Regions from separate parts of the Homo sapiens genome. Here all the other regions are linked to region 1. The links come from fine-mapping of genetic effects on gene expression. A gene starts in region 1. Each other region holds a variant in brackets. All regions are shown on one strand. Distances are between the middles of the regions.

The links. PIP is the estimated chance that this variant, and not a neighbour inherited with it, causes the effect.
Region 2: its variant is the best candidate, but not a certain one, in a credible set for the expression of ERO1B in whole blood (TOPMed, PIP 0.85).
Region 3: its variant is the best candidate, but not a certain one, in a credible set for the expression of ERO1B in monocytes after LPS (Fairfax 2014, PIP 0.64).

Annotation. Positions count from the first base shown.
Region 1 is chr1:236,277,926-236,286,111 of GRCh38, reverse strand. It overlaps ERO1B (endoplasmic reticulum oxidoreductase 1 beta), which reads left to right and starts at 4,154. Exons shown (of 16, transcript NM_019891.4): 1 at 4,154-4,430. The coding sequence starts at 4,329. It also overlaps the pseudogene LOC100130485. RefSeq lists enhancers at 1,826-1,975, 4,560-4,759 and silencers at 3,810-4,399, 4,440-4,489.
Region 2 is chr1:236,245,756-236,253,941 of GRCh38, reverse strand. ERO1B (endoplasmic reticulum oxidoreductase 1 beta) reads left to right here. Exons shown (of 16, transcript NM_019891.4): 3 at 437-520; 4 at 1,851-1,892; 5 at 3,975-4,057. LOC124904562 (a long non-coding RNA gene) reads right to left here and starts at 8,106. Exons shown (of 2, transcript XR_007066962.1): 1 at 6,605-8,106; 2 at 2,275-2,516. The variant A/T (reference allele first, on the strand shown) is at 4,012.
Region 3 is chr1:236,214,306-236,222,491 of GRCh38, reverse strand. It overlaps ERO1B (endoplasmic reticulum oxidoreductase 1 beta), which reads left to right. Exons shown (of 16, transcript NM_019891.4): 14 at 482-568; 15 at 1,527-1,660; 16 at 3,916-7,391. The coding sequence ends at 3,976. It overlaps LOC124904561 (a long non-coding RNA gene), which reads right to left and starts at 1,530. Exons shown (of 2, transcript XR_007066961.1): 1 at 607-1,530. The variant G/A (reference allele first, on the strand shown) is at 4,891.

The DNA.
Region 1 (8,186 bases):
GCACTGTTGACTGGGTAAAGGAGAAAAGCCTCGATTGAAGAGTGAAGCAGAATGGGCTTATGCAAAGAAAGGGCAGCCTGAAGCCAAAATTCCACTAAATACAAAGTTCGTTTCTGAAGTGGAATTAGTGGATACTGATTGAAATAGCAGTGCTTCAGCTCTAAGGATATCAGCAACAGTGATAAAACTTGGCCTTAAAGAAACTTACGTAACTAACTAGAGTTTGTTACTATTGGAAGGGAAGAGTCACCTGGAAAATTCAGAGTTAAAACTTGTTTGAGATCTCTACTAAAAATACAACAAATTAGCTGGGCATGGTGGTGCGTGCCTATAATCCCAGCTACTCGGGAGGCTGAGATGGGAGAATCACTTGAACCCAGGAGGCGGAGGTTGCAGTTAGCCAAGATTGCGCCATTGCACTCCAGCCTGGGTGACAGAGCAAGACTCCGTCTCGAGAAAAAAAAAAACAAAAAAAAACTTGTTTAAACTGATCCCAACTTTTCAGAAATGTAATCCCTTATAAATCCCTGAAGTCCAAAATGTTTTACACTACAACTGTGTAAAATACTGGTCAGGGAGAACTTTTTCCTTTTACCTCATGTTGTAAACTAAATGGCTGAATAAAAATATATCCACTGGGGGGCGGCGTGGAAAGACATCTGTGATAATTTAATGAATGTGTGAATACAAGCTGAGGTAAAGGAAGTGAATTCAAATGGAGTACTCAATAAAAACTCAGCATCCTGAAGGAGACATCTGTTGCCTTTCTCTGACCAGCATCCCTTTCCCCTCTATTAAAAATAGAAAGTTGTTTGAGGCCAACCTGGCCAACATGGTGAAACCCCATCTCTTCTAAAAATACAAAAATTAGCCAGGTGTGGTGACACACTTCTGTAATCCCAGCTACCCTGGAGGCTGAGGCATGAGAATCGCTTGAATCTGGGAGGTGGAAGTTGCAGTGAGATGGCACCACTGCACTCCAGCCTGGGTGACAGAGTGAGACTCTGTTTCAAAAAAAAAAGAAAAAAGAAAAGAAAAAGAAAGTAGTAGTTTGTGCAACTACCTCTGGCTCATTTCTTGTGGTCTGTAGGACTGTGAATCAAGGTGCTCACATTCTACCTGCAAGCTAACCTCCAGAAAGAATGTGAATTTTGATAGGAGGGACAGAAGACTAAAAGCGATGGGAATTGATAAGTATAATGGCAATGCCCTAGAAGAGACTGTTCAATCATGAGTTGTACTCTAATTTAGAGTCCCTGAATTCTGTCCTGATGGACTTACCTTTCTAAAGGTGTGTGGTGAAATCTGCCTCAGTACTGTAAGCAATTTGACATTTTTTTCATTTGCTATTTCAAAAAAAATTAGAGCTAGAGCTGATTTTTGTGGCGTGCAATCAAAGGGGTTTAGTGTATGCACTTTCTTCCTGTTTCAACTTCTAACCACAGCCTTAGGAATGGGAAGGTTCTAACTGAACATCATCTGCAGGAAGCATGGGTGATAGCACATCCCCAGGGCCTCTCACAATGCTGGTTTCAGTGTAGCTGATTTTAGGGAAAGCAGAGGTAAATCAGTCAGAATGAGAGAACAAAGAGGAGGGCTGCCTGTTCACAAAGAAACAACCCCGTCATACCACTCTTAACAATGAACACTAAAACAGATCATGACAGACACCACTTTAAGTGAGTCTTGGTATGCCCCTATTTCATGACAAACACCTGCTATTTCCAATTTCACTCACCAAGAAAAATCTCATTTGTCCCTAGAAGTTATGTGTAAGGCTTCTGAGCTGAAAACAAAAGCAAACGGGGAGGTTTGTTACTGTGACTTTCTGGATTAGGTAACTAAGAGGACAAAAGCTATCTGACCCCTGTCTGCATTAAAGTTCCCTGTCCACTTTGTCTCTCTCTCTTTTTTTTACTCCACCCCCGAACCCACTTTCTTCCTTTGTTCTTTAATAACAAATATTTCAAGCCTCTGGAAAGCCATGAATTCTGCCTTTGATATCCAGGCACTAGAGAGAGTCCTTAAAGAACCCGAGATTTTATAATAGGAAAATTTATAACCCACAATTTAAAAAAAGAAGTTTTGCATAACAAAATTCCAGGAAGTATGTGTTATTGACAACCTCAAATACAGCACAGACAAGGAATCTTTTAAAAAGTCTACCAAACTTGATAAAAAGTTTCTCTTATCAAAAGCACATTTATATGAAGGGAAGAAGGCAGTGAGCAGATAGGAAGTATAGGTTTGGAAGAGAAAAGGAGACATGGAAAAGTAGCTGGAAAAATCAAGCAACAATTTTTTTTTTTTTTTTTTTGAGACAGAGTTTCGCTCTTGTTGCCCAGGCTGGAGTGCAATGGCGTGATCTCAGCTCACCGCAACCTCCGCCTCCTGAGTTCAAGCGATTCTCCTGTCTCAGCCTCCCAAGTAGCTGAGATTACAGGCATGTGCTACCTTGCCCGGCTAATTTTGTATTTTTAGTAGAGACAGGGTTTCTCCACGTTGGTCAGGCTGGTCTCAAATTCCTGACCTCAGGTGATCTGCTCGCCTCAGCCTCCCAAAGTGCTGGGATTACAGGTGTGAGCCACCACACCCAGCCAATTTCTTTTTGCTTTTAAGCTAGGGAAGATCTGGACAGTTTGGAGGCAGAAGGGAAAGAGTTGCTGGAGGGGAAAAGGACAGGCAGGACTGGCTTCATGGGCATGTGACCTATGCAGTCAGCCACCCCAGGACCCTGCATTTGGTTTAATGCTCTGCTGGTTCTGAAAGGTATAAACCACTATGTGGTAGGCTGATTAATGACCCTCTATTTATAAATCCTCATCCTAATCTCTGGAACCTGTGAATATGTTATCCTATATGGCAAAAGGGACTGTGCAGATGTGATCAAGTTGAGGATTTTGAGATAGGATGGTCTGTAACCAATGTAATCACAAGGGTCCTTATACAAGAGAGACAGAAGAGTTAGGGTCACAAGAGAAGGCATGTGACGAGGGAAGCAGAGAGAGTGAAGGAGATGTGAAGTCATGAGGTAAGGAATGCAGGTGGCCTCTGGAAGCTGGAAAAGGTAAGGAAACACATTGTCCCTGAGAGCCTCCAAAAGGAACACAGCCCTACAGGTCCATTTTGGACACCTGATCTCCAGTACTATAAGGTAATGAATTTCTTTTGTTGTATGCAACTAAATGTGTGATAGTTTCTTACAGCATCAATGAGAAACTAATACACGCTACATAAACACAAGGGAGATGTATTACTCGTTTTGTAGAAATCAAAGGCATTAATAAAACTAATAGCAGTTACCATTTATTGAGTGCTTCCTAGGTGCTAGGCACTATACTCAGCTCTTTCTGTATCTAATCTTATGTAGCCCTAGAACAAGATATGAGGTGGGAATTAAGGCCCAATAACTAGCTAGAATGTTTTAGAGTTGGGATCTGCGCCCAATCTATGTCACTCTAAGTTTTTTTTTGTTTTACCCCATCCCCATATTTCATCATAAGCCTTTGGGTTTGTCTTCATTCTTTAGCATGCGTTATACTCGCACGTGTCAACCTAGGAGTCGGGCTGGGGCGGGGCAGGAGATGACATCCACATCTAGGGTGCATGAAATTAAAAAAGAGCCGAAGCCATCTCTACAAGTCACAGGTAGCTTACATAGGCACCCACAGCAGATGTGAGGCTACAGAAAAATGAATGAGACAAAGAATACGCTTCAGACCGAAAGTCAAAGATCCCGCACCGTCCGTTCCTAACTCGCCCGCGTACTGGGTGAATCCTAGAGCCTGGCGTCTGCGAGGACTCCAGGAGCGACAGCAGGGACCGACGCAGAGAGGTCCTCAGCCTGGTTTCCCGGAGAAGAGGTCGCCCCGCTTCCCCCGCCCGCACCCCCCGGTGTTTTGGAGGCCCGCGTGGTCCCGCCTCATTGGCCGCCGCGGAGCCCGAGGCCTCGGGGAGGCGGGGCGGCCTTCGCAGTTGTAGTTCCCGAGTCCTCTCGTTCAGCGGCTCCGCCTTCCTGCCGCGGCGCCTAGGCGACCGCCCAGGACCACAACTCCCACAAGGCCCCGCGCTTGGGGGCGTGGCCGAGGAGCCAAGCGAGCCGGGGGCGGGGCCGCCTGGGGGATGAAGTGGGGGCGCTCGCCTTTCCTGCCTCACTCGCAGCTGCCGGGTGTTGGGGAAAGAGTCGCCTGCCTCCGGACTGGAGTGCAGACCTCTGACCCTGGAGTCGCTCGGCCGCTGGGAACCGTCCCCTTGGGTCGTCGCCTGGGCCGCCCGTCGTTCCCCGGCCCCGAGGGGTCCGGCTGGCCGCGGTGTGGGTAGAGGTCAGCATGAGCCAAGGGGTCCGCCGGGCAGGCGCTGGGCAGGGGGTAGCGGCCGCGGTGCAGCTGCTGGTCACCCTGAGCTTCCTGCGGAGCGTCGTCGAGGCGCAGGTAAGCCCGAGTGATAGCGGGCCGGGAACCCCCGGCCGAACACCCGCGGCCGCTACACACGGGCCGCGGCTGTGACGCGGGGAGGGCCGGGCAGGGCCGGGCCAGAAAAGAGGTGATTTCTGGCGAGCAGAAAACCCGGGGAGCAGAGACCTGACCGTCCAGTGCGGGAAACATCTGCGAACCGCCCGCAGGGTGGGGGGACGGCGACACTCCGGGTAATGGCAGTCAAAAGAGGAAGATGGTGACGGTCCCCCTGAGCTGTTTTCGTTTTTTCCTCTCGGATGTGTTAAGCGGCTGGGAGTGTGGCGGGAGATGGGACGGGCATGAACCACCTCGGCTGTCTTGCGAAGGGAGCGAGCGCCCAGAGAAACGGTGACGTCCTTCCCTTCAGGAGTTAGTGAGGGAGGGAGACTGAGAGTTGGGGGCACTCCGCAGACCCCCGAGGCCCCGCCAGGCGCAGGGGATTGGGAGGGGGCAAGACTTCACTCGAACTGTCGGACTAGAGCTTTCTGGGCTTTTACTCTTCCTCGAGCACCTTCCCTTGCTCAAGATTGCTTTATTTTTACCCAGCTGAGCTGTGTCTGCCAAGTGGCATCGCCAGGTAAGTCCCAATACGAGACTGGGGGGGTCTGAGTGGGGCGTTGTGGCTCGTGGATGGAGGCTCTGGCTCTGGCAGTCGTGAGGTGCTGGCTGGTTGTTGATGTGAAGCGATGATTACAAGTGTTCTCAGTGTGCTAGAAATCTGAGGCTTAGCTGACCAGATCCTTTCGCCTTCAGAGAGGTGTTTGCTTCTATTCAGTAGAATTTGAATTGATTGCCAGGTGCTGCTGCTTGTTGTCTGCACCTGCTGCAAGGAGGCAGCACTGCTGAGGGCCAAAAAAATAAAACGAAGGTCTCAGGTGGCCTGATGATGAGGGGAGATGTCATTTGAAGCAATTAGTGCTCATCCAAGAAAAATTGAAGGTGACTCTGAGTGTAACCGTGAAAACATGTTTTTCTGAATTGAGTCACTTTATTTCATGGTTTTATGGTGCCCTGCACTAAATCCCAGAGTGCCTGAATAGTCCGTTTGTGTCTGTGTTTGAACCATAAAAATAAAAGGGGCAAATTTTTGGTATTGGGGAACATGTTAAAATGCAGATTCTCTGGCCCTACCTCCACATGTATTGATTGGATCTGGAATATGGCCCAGATATCAGCATTTTAAACAAACATTGCAAGTACAGTATAACTGTAGCAAAGTTATCTTTTGACTACCTCTTGGACCTCACTTGGAAAACACTGAGATGGAATAGATAGTGGTAATCTGGGCAGACTTACTAAAGTAAATTTTCCAAATTGTCTTTGGCAAAATTATTTTCTAGTCACTAGTTGAGTGTTTCTGAGTGAAATTTACAATTCGATATTTTTCTGAAATGAGAGTTCCCATTTTCTCTTTTTATATAGCACATATTAATTTATGCTTATCTGTCTAGAAACTTCATTTTAAATTTTTTTCATTTACCACTAATTATGTGTAATTAATGTTTTATAATTTCACCTGTATTTTTAAAATTCTTGTGTAGAGATGGGGACTATGTTATTAGGCTGATCTTCAACTCCTGGCCTCCAGCGAGCCTCTTACTTTGGCTTCCCAGGTGCTGGGATTACAGGTGTGAGCCACTGTACCTGGCCTGCCCCTGTACTTTTAATTTCATTATATCCAAATGAATATAAATATAGTCCAACAGTTAAAGATTTGTGAATATTTGAAGTAGCATTGTGCCAAACAGTCTTCCAAGTGAATATATTTGGTTTTTGTTGCCAGCAGTACTTACTTTCTTTTTTTTTTTTTTTTTGAGATAGTGTCTCACTCTGTTGGCCAGGCTGGATGCAATGGCATGTGTTGGCTCACTGCAACCTCTGCCTCACAGGTTCAAGCAATTCTGTCTGCCTCAGCTTCCCAAGTAGCTGGGATTACAGGTGCTTGCCACCGCGCCTGGCTAATTTTTGTGTGTGTGTTTTTTTTTTTTTTCCCAGTAGACAGGGTTTTGCCATGTTGGCCGAGCTGGTCTTGAACTCCTGACCTAAGGTGATCCGCCTGCCTCGGCCTCCCAAAGTGCTGGGATTACAGGCGTGAGCCACCGCGCCCAGGCCGCCAGCAGTACTTTCTACTGTGCTGTTTTTTTTTTTTTTTTGAGATGGAGTCTCGCTCTGTGTCACCCAGACTGGAGTGCGGTGGCGCCATCTTGGCTCAGTGCAGCCTCCACCTCCTGGGTTCAAGTGATTCTTCTGTCTCAGCCTCCCGAGTAACTGGGACTATAGGTGTGTGCCACCACACACGGCTAATTTTGTATTTTTTAGTAGAGATGAGGTTTCACCATGTTGGCCAGGCTGGTCTCGAACTCCTGACCATAGGTAATCCACCCGCCTTGGCCTCCCAAAGTGCTGGGATTACAGGCGTGAGCCACCGTGCCTGGCCTGATCATCTTTTAGATAGTACTTTAATCTATAACATGGTTACACGTACAATCTCTCCGAAGTGGGACCATTGAGGTAATTGAAGTTCAAAGAACTTAAATGTCTTAATTGAATGAGTGACTTTACAGTGGAGCCCTAATGTGGAACCCTTTCTGGTCTATACAGTATGTTGGTATTTTCAGTTCTCTCTAGTATAGAAAAAGAGATGGAAAATAGGAAAATCAAAAAGTGGAATTCAGCCAGTTCTTTGACTTCATCCATATAATAAATTGGTAGAAAACTGATAAAGGGAAGAATTAGAATTTTTGAAAACTACCTCTGTTCACAAGAAATCAAAGTCATTAAAGGAGATACATATTTTAAATGTTATCCCCTTCCAAAATAAAAGCAGAAAAATATTTTTGAACACACAAAATGATACGTGTTTGTATATCTCATGCCCCATTATCGTATAAATGAAATGTAAATATACTTTGGTGAAGCACTGGAAACTAAAGGCATAGTGCATACAAGTGATATAACAATCTTCCTTTAAAAAGTAATTTCAATTAGATATATGTAAGTTTTTCTAAATGCATTTCTGAGGTGGCATAAAATTGAGTAATACACAGAGCCCCTCAATATATGAAAAGCCAGAAACTTAGAACTTAAATAGTGCTATACCAGTCCGTTACTCTGAGGGCTTCTCCTAAACCCTAAAGATCTTGAGCTGCTTTAGCAGTTGCATGGAGTGGAGTGGGCAAGAAATAACCCCGTGTCTGCCCAGTGAGAGGAAACTAATAGGAGCCTCCACCATAATTCATTTCTCGTTTACCCTTATATTGAGGATGTAGCTGTTTGGAGCCTGGACTTCAAACAATTACATCCTCAGTATAAGGGTAAACGAGAAATGAAACCCATTCTAAGTAAAGGGAATAAAAGAAACTTGCTGGGAGAAGCAGGGAAGAAACTTTTGAGAATTTGTAACCATGAGACAGTCCTCACACAGGTTCGCAAGCCAAATATTTATTCTGGGAAAATTCATAGCAGTCCCAAATTTGTGTGCCCTGGGTTTCCAATAAAAGCAAATATCCATCACCTCTGGAGGAATTTATTTTCAACTCAAACCTCGAAAAATTATTGAAGATGAAGTGCCAAGGAGAATAAACAGCTAGCAGTAAAATATCACAAAACACCCAAGGAAACAGGGCACCATGAATCAGATATTAGACAACAGAAACAAACACATAATGACCTTAGGTTCTGAAATTATCAGATAATTTAATATCACTATGTTTAATGTGTTCAAATAAAAAG
Region 2 (8,186 bases), 32 kb after region 1:
TGACTACAACTCGTACTAAACTTACAAATATTTAATTTGTTTCCTTCAATAGATTTTTAAGTTCCAGAGGGATAGGGGAGTTCTTTTTCTGTCCATTTTCCCCCCATAGCCTACCCAGTGCCTGACACATAGTGGATGCTCAGTTCTTATTTGTTGAATAAATGGGTGCATGAGAGAATTCTCATTAATAAGATAACATTAGGAGGCTGGAAGACATTCAAGTAGTTCTAAATGCTTTCTCTGTCACCCAGTCTGGAGTGCAATGGCATGATCTAGCTCATTGCTGTCATTTTAAATTCTGAACCTTATAGGTGCCACGAGGATAGGAAGTATTCCTTCTTATTCACCACCATGTCACTGGTGCCCAACACAATGACACTTTGAGAGCACCCCATAACTATAATATGAGTTTACTAACTTTGTTCTTTCTTTCAAGGTTAATCTGAAGCGACCTTGTCCTTTCTGGGCAGAAGATGGCCACTGTTCAATAAAAGACTGTCATGTGGAGCCCTGTCCAGAGGTATAATAAATAAAATAACAGGGCAAAGCCAATTTTCTCTTGGACTTTTAGAAAAGCATAACCTCTATTTTATTTCAGGCTAATGTCAATGGATTTGGATGTGTCAGCAAATTCATATGCTCTCAGCTCTCTCCTTTAGAACCAGATTATTGAAGATTCTATACTTGACACCAAAATGGGTTTGAAGACACTTGTATCCAGTGATACTGGTGATCAAATATGGAAATATAGTCTTATTCTAAAATGGAAGGAAAATCAGAGGCCTGTTCTAGGATTGGATCTGCAGTTGTCTTTTATTTCATGCTTTATTGAATCAGCATCTTGTTTCATAGGAAAAAAAAAACAAAATAAAAACAAGCTACTGGACCCTATATTTCAAATTTATAGTGATTTAATTGGGGAAATTTCAGGCTTAGAATTAGATTTTCACTTGGCCTTGTTACATTTACATTTAAAAAAAAACCTATACTTAATACCAAGAGAATGCTACATTTTAGACTTTGATTTTTGTTATCTAACATAATTAATTATATTCCTCTTCTTCAACAGTAATTAGTTGTAAGCTTTGTTTTCCTTTCACTTTCTGCTTTTCTTACCTAATCAGTTAGTCTAGTTTGTTGTCCTTAAAAATCTGTACCAATGTCCTTCCTAAAGGGAACATTCTTTAAAAATTTATAATATTCAGTTTCCTTTAAGAATAAAATATGTATTAAGTATTTCGTTTAAAGTTCTGTTTGATAAACTGGTTGTAATAATTCAGATACATTTATTAAAGCCTAACACTAATTATTGGCCTTGTGAAAAAGAATGTTCCAGCTACATGCACTTCTCCCATTGGTAAACCCTAGATTAGATTGGTAAACTCTAGGTTAATCGTGTGGGCCAAAAAAAGCTTTCTAGTAATCCAAAATTGCCTACACTTTGTTAGAGCAGAAGTTAAAATTGCACATAATACATTGCAAATAATTTTGAACTTTCAAAACTTTCTTTTCTATGGTAACAAAGTTTGTGGAAGGAAGTGATTGTCAGTGTTTTCAACCTAAATTATATAAACTATAAAAAATACTGCAATAGTTATTAGAGCTGCTTTTGGCTTTCTTACTTTGTGTATGTCATTCAGTTTTCTATACTTTGATTTATAAGTCTGTATATTGGGATAACACTTTTACTTTATGAGATAGTGTGAAAACACAATTTGAGTGAGTGTATATTTGCCCCTCATAGAGTAAAATGCTTGATGAAATAGAGCAATGCATTGACAATTCGTGAAGAAATTCCAAAAAAAATAAAGATCACTTAAAAATTTTTTTGCTTTTCTTGTTTTTTTAAGAGTAAAATTCCGGTTGGAATAAAAGCTGGGCATTCTAATAAGGTAAGTCCCTCCTCTTCCTTGAGTGTTTCTGCTTTACATTGTGAAACTTACCATTTACTGACTGACAGTGGCTGTAGTAAAGAACCATATTATGGTTAGTTGGGAATGGAGACATTTTGCCTCAGAATTCCAAATCCCTAACTCTTGCGTCAAGCAGATAGATTGTACATTTCTAGATTCTTTTGAAATTGCTTCAGTACTGTTTTTGGAATCTCTGGAACAACTATTAAATGTAACTATAGTGTCAGATCCCCTAGTCAGCAGGTGTTTTATCACATAGCTATTTTTAGTCTTCTGTTTCAACTAGTTAGCCTGGCAGGTTCAGAATTATATTGTATAGAGTAAATAATTATCAAGATATTTTGAGCAGAGTACTTTCAGATGGTATTAAGATATTCATTTTTAATTATTGTTCTTGTCCTTTTATGAGAGTATTATATTTTGCCATTGATATGTTTTTAGAGAACCGTTTATTTCCTGTTTTTCACTACTGCGCATCCATAATAAAGATCATCATACCCTCTCTCTCTGTCTCCTTCTTGTGCCTCCTTTGCGTTTTCTTCTTGCTCTCTCTCCCGTGTAATCTTTTGTTTTTACTTTATTGTATTTATTTTTGCTTCAGATCTGAAATAAATAAAACCATATAAAAGCAGTTGAAACCCCCTCAGCCATTTCCCAGTTCGTTCTAATTCCTTCCTCCCAGAGCTAACCATTTTTCTGAAGTATCCTGTGATTTTATATTCTTATTGCAGGTGTATCTACAAGTAATATATTTTACACTTTTATTGCATGTGTATCCACAAGTAATATGTAATTTATTGTGTGTAAATTTTTTTTAATTTAAATAATATTAATAATATTTTTCTATTTCTTTAGGTTACAAACTTTTTTTCAGTTTGTGCTTTTACTCAGTCTTACACTTTTGAAATTTTCTCTGTTGGTATATGTGGATTTTGCTCATCATCTTAATAGCTGTAGTCAGTTGTATGACTATAACACATATTAGCCATTCCTCTATTGATGGACATTTCAGTTGTTCCCAATTTTTGGCTATTTCAAACAGTAATGCACTAGCATTTTTGTCCTTTGTCTCATTGTGCACACATGTAAGAGTTTCTCTAGGTCTACCTGTAAAGGCAGGATTGCTGAACCATAAGGCATGCCTATCTCAACATTAGAAATAATACCAAATAATTTTCCAAGGCAGTTGTACCTTTTTAAAAAAATGGTTGCCCTGGGATGTGGTCTCACTAGTGGGACTGCAGGTTCAAAGGTTTAAGCATTTTGCAAACGTGTGTGTGTATGTGTGTGTGTGTATATATATGTACGTATGTATATATATATGTGTGTGTATATATAACTTTTATATAAAAACCCTCTTTAGAACTAAATTTGACCATATATATATATATGTTTGCACACACACGTTTGATATATATATATATATATATATATATATATATATATATATATATATGGTCAAATTTACTTCCCAAGAGGGTTGTTTTTTCAGTTGATATCACCAACACATCAGTGCTAATTGTTAACTTTTACTTTTGAATTTTTATTTATTTTTTTGAGACAGAGTCTTGCTCTGTCATGCAGGCTGGAGTGCAGTGGCGTGATCTCAGCTCACTTCAACCTCTACCTCCCAGGTTCAAGCAATTCTCCTGCCTCAGCCTCTCCCGAGTAGCTGGGATTACAGGCGTGTGCCACCACACTTGGATAATTTTTGTATTTTTAGTAGAGACGGGGTTTCACCATGTTGACCAGGCTGGTCTTGAACTCCTGACCTCAAGTGATCCGCCCGCCTTGGCCTCCCAAAGTGCTGATTACAGACGTGAGCCACTGCACCCAGCCTAATTGTTAAATTTTAATATGTTGTTGATGGAAATAATATTTAGTTGGTGGAAATTTCTGCCTCATTTTCATTTGTATTTCTTACATATGATAGGGATTTTTATAATGGAATGTATGTATATTTAGTGTATATCATTGTTGACAGATTGATTATTCTGCCAATAGAAACTGAAATAAAGAATAAGGTAATAATTTTTACTAAACTTACGAACTTCTTTGCAGTACTTGAAAATGGCAAACAATACCAAAGAATTAGAAG[A/T]TTGTGAGCAAGCTAATAAACTGGGAGCAATTAACAGCACATTAAGGCAAGTTTTATTTTGGTAATATTAAGAAAATATTCTCATTGATATCAAGAATCAATTTTTTATGATTTTGGTAAAACATTTTCGAACCCATTAAAGTTTTAACTAATATATTTTTAAAAGGAAGAAAAAGTTTTTCTTTATCCTAAATTTCATAATAGCTTTGCCTCTTCTTGGCTGATTTATCCTTAAATTTCTAGAATGTATCATCCATAGTAAATCTTTTAAAAAGTAGAAATTTACAAGATTGTTCAGCTAACAGGGTTTATGGATCAATTTTTCCTGATTACTATGGAAGAAGGGGCTTGAACTCCTAAATCTTTTTAAATAGTGATTGAGTCTGGATGTTACATTTTGAATGATAAAAGTTATTAGCCTGTTAAATTTCGTAGATTTTTTTTCTGTTAACTTTTCCTTATTTGTTCTACACAGAAACCAGCATAAACAATATATAAATGGCCTCAAATTGTGTAGTATAAAATGACTAGACATAATCAGTAGTTGGGAATGAGATATTTCAGAAATTCCTTTACATTCCCATTTGATTAGGTTTGTATTTATGAGCCGGGCATGGTGGCTCATGCCTGTAATCCCAGCACTTTGGGAGGCTGAAGTGGGCAGATCACCTGAGGCCAGGAGTTTAGGACTAGCCTGGCCAACATGGTGAAACCCCATCTCTACTAAAAATACAAAAATTAGCCGGGTGTGGTGGCGGGTGCCTATAATCCCAGCTACCTGAGAGGCTGAGGCAGGAGAATTGCTTGAACCTGGGAGGCGGAGGTTGCAGTGAGCTGAGATCACACCGTTGCACTCTAACCTGGGTGACAAGAGTGAGACTCTGTCTCAAAAAAAAAAAAAAAAAGATTTGTATTTATGTACCATAATTGCTAATGACTCAGTATAAGTTAGCAATTTTATTTATTGAAGACAAAATTTAATATAGGAAAATAAAAGATAATAAACACCCACATACATATCCTCCATTTCAAATAAATAATCCTCCATTCCAAGTAAATAAATATTAACATTTTTTGCCATATGTTTTAAGGAACAAGAAACATCACAGATAAATTTAAAATCCCTTATGCTGTATTCCCTAATCCAGTAGAGGTAACTACTATCAAGAATTAGTTGGTGTATATCCAGTCTGTTTTTGTTTTTATATATTTATATGTATAAATAAGATAGTTTTATTTTGTGTATATGGTTTTATTTTTCCTTTGTATAAATGATATCCTATATTTAACATTCTGCTACATTTTTCATTGTACATTTTGCTTTCTAGATCTGTCCATGTTGAAACACAGATTTATTCTTTTAACTGATGAATGATTTTCATCATATAAATATCCCATATTTTACTTAGCTATTCACTTATTGATGGATGTTTAGCTATTTCCAATTATTTACTTTTACAAACATGCCACCTTGAGCATTCCCAAATTTTTTTTCACATTAGAAGTAGAATTGTTGAATCTTAGGATTGTCTTTTTAATACCCATTCTTGATATTGCCTGATGACATTCCATAGTACTTGGTGTGAATATATACTGACTCCAGTGCTGACAGCTTGTATCATTCTCTACATCCTTACCAAAAGTTGATAATGTTTGTTGAGTGTGAAATAGTACCTTGTTTTTATTTTATACTTCGTAATTACTAGTGGATTTGAGCATTTTTTATTTATTGGACATTTGAGTTTCTTATTCATTCAACAAATGAATGTCTACAATGTGCCAAGCACTGTTCTAGGGTACTAGGAATCCAGTAGCGTAATGGATAAAATTTCCGCCCTCGTGCAACTTGATCCTTGTCAGAGGAAATAACACAATAAACAAGTAAAATATATGAGAAATAAGTAAGTAAAATGATGATGAATGCTAGGGAAGACAGGCAGGGAAGAACAAAGAGGGCTAGGAGTGAGAGAGTGGCACTGTTTTAAATTGGGTGGTCAGAGAAGATAATACAACATTTGAACAAATTGCCGAAGAAGGTGAAGGCATGAGTCTTACTATGGTTGGCTGGGGGATGAGCATTCCAGGTATATATAAATGTTAGTTGAAAACCCCCATGGCAGGATCATGCCTAGACTTAAACACAATAAGACCAATGTAACTGCAGCACAGTCATCAAGGGCAAAGTAGCAGAAGACAAGGTCAAAAGATGCTAGGGATGGGGCAGGAGGTGGGGTGGGTAGAGATCTTGTAGAGCCTTGAAAGCAATTATAATGAGTGTTTGCTCTTAGACTGGGTGGAATAAAACTCACAGGGAGGTTTTGAACAGAGGAGTTAAGGGCATGTGTTGAGGGAGCCTGATATGTTGCAGAAGCCTTATTACGTGATTATCGTAGTAATCCAAATAAGACATTATGGTGATTTAAACCAGGGTGATAGCAGTGGAAATGATGAGAAGCGGTCAGGTTCTGGATGTATTTTGAAGATAAAGCTAACAGGATTTGCTGCAGTATTGGATATGTGGTATTGAGAAGATATGAGCTTTTGGATGACTACAAGATTTGGAATTATAAAAATGGAGTTGCCATTTACTGACCTGTGGACAGCTGGAGGAGGAGCAAGTCTGAGACAAAGTTATAGTCAAATTTGGATTTGTTAAGTTTGAGCTGCCTGTGAGACATCCACTTGGAGATTTCAGGTAGGCAGTTGGATATACAAATCTGAAATAGGGGAGAGGTCTGGATGTCAGTCAATGAATAGATGGTGTTTAGCAGCCATAAACCTAAATGAGATCACCAAGGAGAGAGTGTAAATAGAGGAATGATCTAGGGACTAGGCTTAAGTCATTGGAAGATTTTGGGGTAAATTGCCAGTTTATATTCTTTGTCATTTTTTTCTCCATTGGGTTGGATTTTAAAATTATTACTGATTTGTAAGCATTCTTTATATAATGTGATAATTCTTTGTTGGCTGTGTTGTTAGGATTTGTCCTTTAATTTTGCATATAGTTTTTTGTTGTTGAACAGAAATTATTCTTTAAACTTAAAAAATTTAAGTATAATACACATATGGTGGAATAGAAAATTCTTAAGTGTAAAGGTCAATGTAACTTTACAAAGTGAACCCAACTCTATAGCCACCATCCAGAGCATTATACTTGCTGTCCAGATTACCATGTGTACTTTCCTAGTCATTATCACCTTCCAAAGTTAACCGTGATTTTGAGATACTGACAGAGATTAGTTTTAACTGTTTATAAATAGAATGATATAGAACATATTCTGTTGTATCTGGCTTCTTTTTGTTAACATGTGTCTGAGATTCATTCATGTTTTTGGGCATAGTAATGTTTAATTCTTTTTTATTGGCACATAGTATTCTATAGTAAGAATGTGCCATGTTTCCATTCTGCTCTTGATAGCTTATGCTTTGGGGCCATTTCAGAAATATTTTGGTGGATACAGTTGGACATGGTGGCTCATGCCTGTAATCCCAGTACTTTGGGAGGCCAAGGGAGGAGGATTGGTTGAAGCCAGGAGTTCAAAATCAGCCTGGCCAACAAGTGAGATCCTGTCTCTACAAAAAATTAAAAAAAAAAATAGCCAGGTGCAGTGGCATGAGCCTATAGTCCCAGTTACTTGAGTGGCTGAGGCAGGAGGATCACTTTGAGTTCATGAGTTTGAGACTGCAATGAGCTATGATTGTGCCACTGTACTCCCCAGCCTGAGTGACAAAGTGAGACACTATCTGTGAAAAAATAAAAAAAAAATTTGGTACATACATATGTATATTTTTATGGAGAATATACCTAGAAATGAGATTAGGTACTGCCAAATTGTTTTCTAAAATTGCTACCAAATTATATTGCTACTAGTAGTGTATCAGTTATCTGTTCTACAACTTCTCCAGTGATTGGTACTATGATTTTTAAACAGCTTTACTTTGAGGTATAATGAAATATGATACACTGCATATAAAGTATACAGTTTGATGTTTTGACATGTGTCCACCCATATAACATCATCACAATTAAGATACCATAGGTTGGGTGTTGTGTCTCATGCCTGTAATCCTAGCACTTTGGGAGGCCGAGGCAGGGGGATCATGTGAGGCCAGGAGTTCAAGACCAACCTGGCCAACATGGTGAAAATACTACTTAAATACTACTAAAAATAAAA
Region 3 (8,186 bases), 64 kb after region 1:
ATTAATGTCAGTATTTTATGTACCATGTTATAGTATACAAGTATCAAGTATTTTTCTTTACTGTTGAAAAACACAACTCGGGTTGGGTATGGTGGCTTACACCGTAATCCCAGCACTTTGGGAGGTCGAGGTGGGCAGATCATTTGAGGCCAGGAGTTCAAGACCAGCCTGGACAACATGGCGAAACCCCGTCTCTACTAAAAATACAAAAATTAGCTGGGCATGGCGGCATGCGCCTATAATCTAAGCTACTTGGGAGGCTGAGGAGACAGGAGAATCCCTTGAACCTGGGAGGTGGAGGTTGCACTAAGCCGAGATGGCACCACTGCACTCCAGCCTGGGCGACAAAGCAAAACTCCTTCTCAAACAAACAAAAAACACAACTGATTTATTAATAAGCATCAAAACTTACTTATCGTTTAGCCAAATGCGGTTCAATTTTAAAAGTCTAATTAGACTGAAAATATTTTCTGCTTGCTAGGAGGAATTCCGATTACATTTCAAGAATATCTCCCGTATAATGGACTGTGTTGGATGTGACAAATGCAGATTATGGGGAAAATTACAGGTATATGTGTTGTCTTCTCTTTTGAAGCCATTACTAACCTTTATTTTTTCCACTGAGTCCAAGCTTTTTATTAAAATGTCCTCATTGTTCATTGAATTAGAATTTAGGAATAGGCAGATCCAAGGTGTTTTTTCTGTTGATGAAAAAATTAAAGTATATGTGTTACATGTATGTGAAAGGATGTTTCTCATATTATTCTTTAGTGATTTTAGTTTTATTGTGTCTATGTTTCTATTGATACAATACCAGATTCATTTGTGAAGTTGGTGGTCATTACGAACCGAGTATATCCGTATTTTACATATGTATATAGAAAGGTAAAATGTAATTACATAAAAAGATTGAAATATGAAGTCTTGGTCATTGAATTTGTATAAATGAGCAAAAGAAGGTCACTTAGTCAAAACAGGAAAGCTCCGCAAGACAGGTCCATTACTCTGTGTAAGCCAGTGTCAAAAGGATTGTTGAATATTTTATCTCTTTCTAACAAAGATGGTAACTTATAGAAAATTAAGAGACAAAATTATTACAGTGGAGGCTATACTGAAATAAAATGTCTTTTTCTATAGTGCTAATAATTGAGAAATTATTAAGTGTGGGTATCAATAATCTCTGAGTTTTGAATTGCTAAAAGCTGTAAAAAGTCCTTTATGGTTACAAATTGAACATTGTAATCCTAATATGGTATTTTCAAGGTTAAAAAAGTCATTTTAATAATTTGGAATAGTATGATATGTATTCAATAAGTGTTAAGACTATTCAGGTTTCCTTAACTGCTCAGATGTGTTTATTATATGCATAACCTGTGAGAAAGTAGAAACTGTAGTAATATTTTTGTGAAAAGCTCAGTTCATATGAATTTCCTAACTGGCATAACAGTGGCTATATATTCCTTTAAGCCTTTTTACTAGTTATTATTATTTAAAGTTAATTATGAGTTTATTGCTATTTTCTTTAGACTCAGGGTTTAGGAACTGCCCTGAAGATATTATTCTCTGAAAAAGAAATCCAAAAGCTTCCAGAGAATAGTCCATCTAAAGGCTTCCAACTCACCCGACAGGAAATAGTTGCTCTTTTAAATGCTTTTGGAAGGTAAGAACCATTATATGTTGAAGATTTTTGATTTCCCATTGGGTTTCAACAAACTGCAAAGATAATCTTCTTTGCTAAAAGTAGGGTTTGTTTTGTTGACAAAAAAAAATTTTATATTGTATCTGTACTAACTTAGAGAGGCCTTAATGCTGACAAGTCAGTTTCTCTACAGGTCATAGGAAAAACTAAGTTTCCAATTGCCAGTGTTTTTCAGTTTGCTGCCTTAATTTTGTAAGGGAGATATTCTTCTAATATTCTTTTTGCTTGGCTATAACTTGTTCAACTACAATAGCAGGAGTAAGGAATGTGTGATTGAGAAGGTGATAAAAGAAAATTAAAACCTTCATCTGCTCCTTATTTTTCTTAAATTTTCATTACTATTTTTTTCTTTTCTCACCTTTTTCCTGCACTATGCTCTTTATTTCTGAAGCTCAGAGGTCATTTTTCTTTCACTCATTTCTACATGATTTACTTCTGTATAGAGACATATAATTTGCTTGCTTGTTTATATCACCAGTGGTTTAAAAAATAATTTGAATTTGCCAGCAGAGATACATGTAATGCCAACTGAGGAATACAGAACAGAAGGAAAAGAATCACAGAAAATAATACTATGCTTCCTTGGGGAAAAAGAGAAAAAAGTCAACTTGAGGAAGAATTAAAAAAAAAAAAATAGGGGACTAAGTAATACAAAGATTATTTCTTGGTTTTCTTAACATGTGTTTTAAGTTAAAAAGAAGCAGTTAAATTAAAAACAGATTTATTATATGTCCCCTGCTTTTTTTTTTTTTTTTTTTTTTTTTAAAAGAGATGAGGGTCTCGCTCTGTCATCCAGGCTGGAATGCAGTGGCACAATCATGGCTCACTGCAGCATCCAAATCCTGGGGTCAGGCGTTCCTTCCACTTGAGCTTCCCAAGTAGCTGGGACTACGGACACATGCTATTTTGCCTGGCTAATTAAAAAATTTTTTTTGTAGAGATGGGGGTCTCACTTTGTTGTCCAGTCTGGTCTCAAACACCTGGCTTCAAGTGATTCTCCTGTCTTGGCCTCCCAAAGTGCTGGGATTACAGGCATGAGCCACTGTACCTGGCCATTTCCCATCTTAATAACAAGGATTTCAGCTGTTGCTTCCCTGTATTTAAAGATGACTATGTAGGTTGAGATTTCAGACACAGGATAGATATAGACTATCCATTAACTGGTATTTCATAAAAAATTCAGTCCATCCACTTATGAGGCCTGTAGAAAGATAACACAGGAGATACTGAATGAAATTTAAATAAATTGAAATGAAAAATATTGTAAATAACTTAAGCATCTCTTAAGTCCAAATTAAATTGAGAAAGATGAAAACAATTGAGAATTTCAAAACAATTGAAAATTTCCTTCGATCTCATAAAAAATATTCACAAATGCAGCCTTTCTTGTTTTAGTTCTATATCTAGAGCTTATTACCTTTTATTGTTCCCTAGAGTAATGGACTCAGAATCAGGGGTCCTAAAGTTCTGGAATCCTGGCCTGCCCTTTAGTAGTGGTATGAACTCAGGCAAATCACTGCTTTCCTAGTTTGTTTCCTGATAATGAGATCATATATGTGATGGGCTTAGAACATTGCCTGTCCTCCTAAGTGATTAAGGAATAATTTTTCTTCTATCAAATAGTTAAAGATTTTTCTTCTATCACCCCTGAATTGTACATAGGGATACTTGAGCTTTTAGAATTACTTTTTTATATTTCCCATCCCAGAGTTTTACTTTTTGGCCTGGGCTGAGAAGCACTTCATTTAGTCAGTCAGTAATCATTTACTGAATACTATAAGCATCAATGGGTATGGGGCACAGGAGAGAGACTCAGCAGGAGATGAAATAGAGTCTTTACCCTTAGGGAGCTAACAACATAAGACAAATTAGTGTGTTTGGGGAACATTGAGTAAAGAGCAATCATTTGAAGAGGAATGTGCAAAATAAATTTATTAGACCAATTGTAAATGATTTGAGATTCTTTATTAAGAATTATTCATATCACTGTTCCCATTATTAATCTAATGTCTGTAGATAGTATGAAGTAACAGGCTTCCTTTGCCCCTTCTAAACCAGTCTTAATGAGAACACTAATTTAAACATGGAAGCTTCAGTGTTTGAGGTTTTTTATTTTAGGTTTTGCTTTCAAATTATAGCTTATGTAACAATATCAATAATTTGAAACAGTATGCAACATGTTAGCCTTACTAATAAGCTTTTTCTTTCTTCCATAGGCTTTCTACAAGTATAAGAGACTTACAGAATTTTAAAGTCTTATTACAACACAGTAGGTAATAAAGGCTTTTATGTGTCTAACTAGAGACATAAAGTGACTGTGGAAAGCCTTTTAATTATGGACATTCATCAGAAAGACACTAATCTGACTTCAAGAATTCTGAACTATTAAATAGAAAATTTAAATGCTCACTTGAATATTTATGATTCTTAATAGATTATTATCAACTAGAGATATTTATAAATGAAGTATATACTTTTAAAACATGTAAGTTATACTAATTTTGTGTTTAATTTCATATGTTTTCATGTAATGAAAATTCTATTTTTTTTAGAATTGGTTTTGTTTTTATTCTATTATCCTTTATTTCCAGTTGTCAAACTTTAAATGGCTATGTCTGCATTCTAATAACACTGTTCAGTCTGTTATGGAAAAGGAGAACTAGGGAACAAATGTTGCTCAGGGCTGGTGTCAGTGAGAAAAATTTATCAATGCTTTTTAATGTGTTTTTACCCTTGCCTCACTGTGTGTGTGTCACTTTCTATAATATAAAGAAATACTATAATATTTCTAGAATCTGGAACTGTCACCATGATGAATGGCCCTTTCAATGCATAGTTACAGAAATTCCTGAAGATTCCCCAGGACTTCAATTTCATTGGTTTTTATTTGCAGTTTTTAGTTGCTGTAATTGTTGCTGTTTCCAGTCTAAAGGACCTCCTTTGGTAAAGGTGAACAAGACCTCTCCCCTATGCTACCCAGCCAGATTTTGTGTGTGTAATGGGCTGGCCCAAGAGTGTTCTTTTACTTAGAACTCCTTTTGATTTTGCTTTTCTCTGCCCCTAGAAATTTTAGGGACAAAGACATTTTGGAAATTGTCAGTTACTTTTAGAAAGAAAACACTGCAGAAATATTTAACAGATTACTTCTTGATAAAATTTAAATGGGATTATATGAATTTATAATGCCAATT[G/A]AAAATATTATATACACAAAATTTGCTATTTTCACTTAAAGTAAGCATTTTTAAAGGATTTATTTTAGAATACAATCTATGCAATCCTCGAACTCAGTGTGCTTTTCCCTGACAGGATATATAAAAAGGTAGATTAGGTCAACCCTCCTTTAAGCTTACTCTCCCCTCACCTTTTCTTTTCACTGTATATAAACGGTACTTTCTGTGATTCATACCAACAGAGGACTTTCTGTGATTCATACCAACAGTCCTAAACTGTCATTTTCTAAATCTGGGATTTAAAATCTTTAGACAATATTTAAAATCTTGATTTTTTTTAAATGTCAGCAGATACAATTTGGAAGATTGCATCTGTGTAGAAGTAATGCAGGTACAAGATCTAGAGTTTTTCCTTAGACTCTTTAGTCTTTTCTGAATTAAAGAATAAGTGCTCTTAAATCCATATTTTATCCTGTCAAAGTCTGAAATGTGTTCATTGATGATTTGGTGACATCTAAAAAATTGTATTTAGTTGGCTTGGCTCACCCCTCTTAAAAATACTTAGCCATCTCTTGGTGGGATGTGGTGGGGGTATTAAGGTCTCAGAGTTATTTATTTTCTCACCTAATTTCAAACCTTTATAAACTTGGGGTTTTGTTGTTGATGGTGGTAGTATTTTTTGTTAAGTTGTTTAAAAGGCTGACTTGATTGGAGCCTCCTCTACTTTTTCTTGAGGGTTGCAAGTATTGTATGGTGGGGGAGGGGGGCCTTAAGGCAAACTGTCTAAAAAGTGACTATCCAATTAATTTAACTAGTAAATTAGTAAGAATTATTCTTAGTATTCACTCAGAGTTTAAGATGTGAAAAATCTGCACTTTGTTTATCACTCTAAATGTAAAGAACTTTTTGATAGTGTTATTTCACCACTCCCTCAGTTAAAGGCTATTATTTAAACTGTTTACTGGAGAAAATCCTCGCTCATGTCCATTTATTGTTTTTTTCTGTACTGTGATTTGTTTCAAGCTTAGGAAAACTAGTATATTAGAGTATGTTCTAGGAAATTAAAAGATCTGGTTAGAGTAAAAAGTTCTTTTTAAGGTTCTTAACTAATTTTTTCACAACTAAGAAAATAAATGAAGTATTCTTAGGCTGAAATTCATCTTATTTTATCATAAATTAGATTGTAGGGGCAGCCTACATTTTTGTGTATGTGTTTTTATTTCTTAAATGATTGTGTGAGCCTGGTGACATTTTATGGTTCTTGTGATCTAAACTGTTTTTCCAATTCACATCTTTTGTCGTGAAGTGATATTATACTAGAGTACTGTTTGCATTGTAAAAATGCTTTGCTGGTGCTCTGGCATTTTGTCTTTATCTCATCACCTAATTTAAAAACCCAGCACTTGATAATATAACTGACAGAAATGATTGTACCCACTGATGAAGTAATGAAAATGAAGAAAAGGAAAATATTCCTTCCTTCAATGGCGTAAGTTTATTTTTTACTTAAGTGGCATCTATGTAAGTTAGACAAACTATATATTAAAATTGGTAAACTTTGAATGTTTCTCCTGTTTTGATTCTTAGATTATGAGGAGGATCAGACAGAATAAGACTCCACACTTTTGAAATTTGATAAGTCAAAACGTTTTATTTTGACATTTTTAACATTGTGAATTATTCGATATTTGTAATCTCTGTATGTATATGAAACTCTGCCATGTTTTTCAACTTTGCCTATGTGCCACTGTATATAAGAAAGGACAGCTATTTTGATCTTCATCAGCATTGCCTTCAGCTGAAAATTTGGGAACAGTTCACAGTAAACCTCTCAGTAGTTTGCAAACTGAGGTACCTGCAGAAACCATAGCTACTCACCAAAATACACAGATTAGGTGCATGGTATCGTGGAAATTATTTGGTAAAAAAACACACACACAAATCTATGTGTACTGTATTTTAAGGAATATCTACAGGTGCAGCTTTGATTTTGAACAGAATTCCAAATAATTTACTGTTGTACCCACCAGAATCTAGAAAATGTGAATTAAAGTACATGTTTCTGCAATCTTTTCTGTCTTGTTTTTCCCCGCTATTTTAAGTGTTTCTTTTTATGGCATGAGAATTTGATTGTAACCTGTGGAGAAGGGAGAAAATGTATTTATAAGTAGTCTGAGGTTGTTTCTTATCATAATGGCAAGCATTGGCTGGCATTGTATTAAGGGCTTTTACATGCATAGTTTGGCTTTAAAAGAATACACCGTTAATCTTCACAATAGCACTAGTAGGTAGGTACAATTACTTCTCTGTTTTATAAGTAAGAAGACTGAGGATAAAAAAGGCTAAGTAACCTGTCCATAGTCACAAATTCTAGGTTGTGGAGCAAGAATTTGAGACGAGAAAGACTGATTCTAGAACCTTTGTGACATTTTGTAAGTTGGCCTATTTCCATTCAGCTACAAAGTGGGAACAATTAAAAGCATTGTTTGATTTGTATTGAATCATAAAGCTTATAAAATATGCTTATCTTATTTAATTTTTTGAATAGGTAATACATTCACATGGTTAAAAGAAACAAACAATATAAAAAGTTATTCAGTGAATGTGTTCCTGTGTCCTTGGCCCAGCTTCCTCCACTGCACACTCATCTCCCACCATGAATAGCCTGTGCTCTTGGTTTCTTAGGTTTCCATTCACACTGTTGTAGACAGGTACAAACATATACAAATGGAAAGTCTTATTTTTTCTCTCATTTTTACTCAAAAATTGACATCATATACATACGACTTCATTTTTTTCACCTAGTATTTCTTGGCAGTCTTCACATATGACTAGATAGTTTTCTCATTTTTTGAAGTAGATACTTGGTATTCTGTTATGTGAATGTGCCAGTGTTGAATTAACCCGTCCTCTATTAATGGGCAGCTGGGTTGTTTCCAGACCTTGTACATATGTCATTTCACATTTATATAAATATTGTACCTGTAGAATAAATTCCCAAAGATAAGAATTTTGGGGGCAAAGACTGTGTGCATTTATAATTTTGAAAGATATTGGCATATTGTCCTTCATAGGGGTAGTCATCAATTCACATACCATCTAAAATTTATGATAGTACTTGCTAACCTGCAACATTACCAATGTAGATGTTATTAAAATGTTGGATTCTGGCCATTCTGGTAGATGAAAATTTATATCAATGTGTACATTCTTTTATTTTCCTTAAAAAAGAGACAGGGTCCCACGTTATCACCCAGGCTGGAGTGCAGTGGTATGATCATAGTTCACCGTAGCCTCAAACTCGTGGGCTCAAGTGA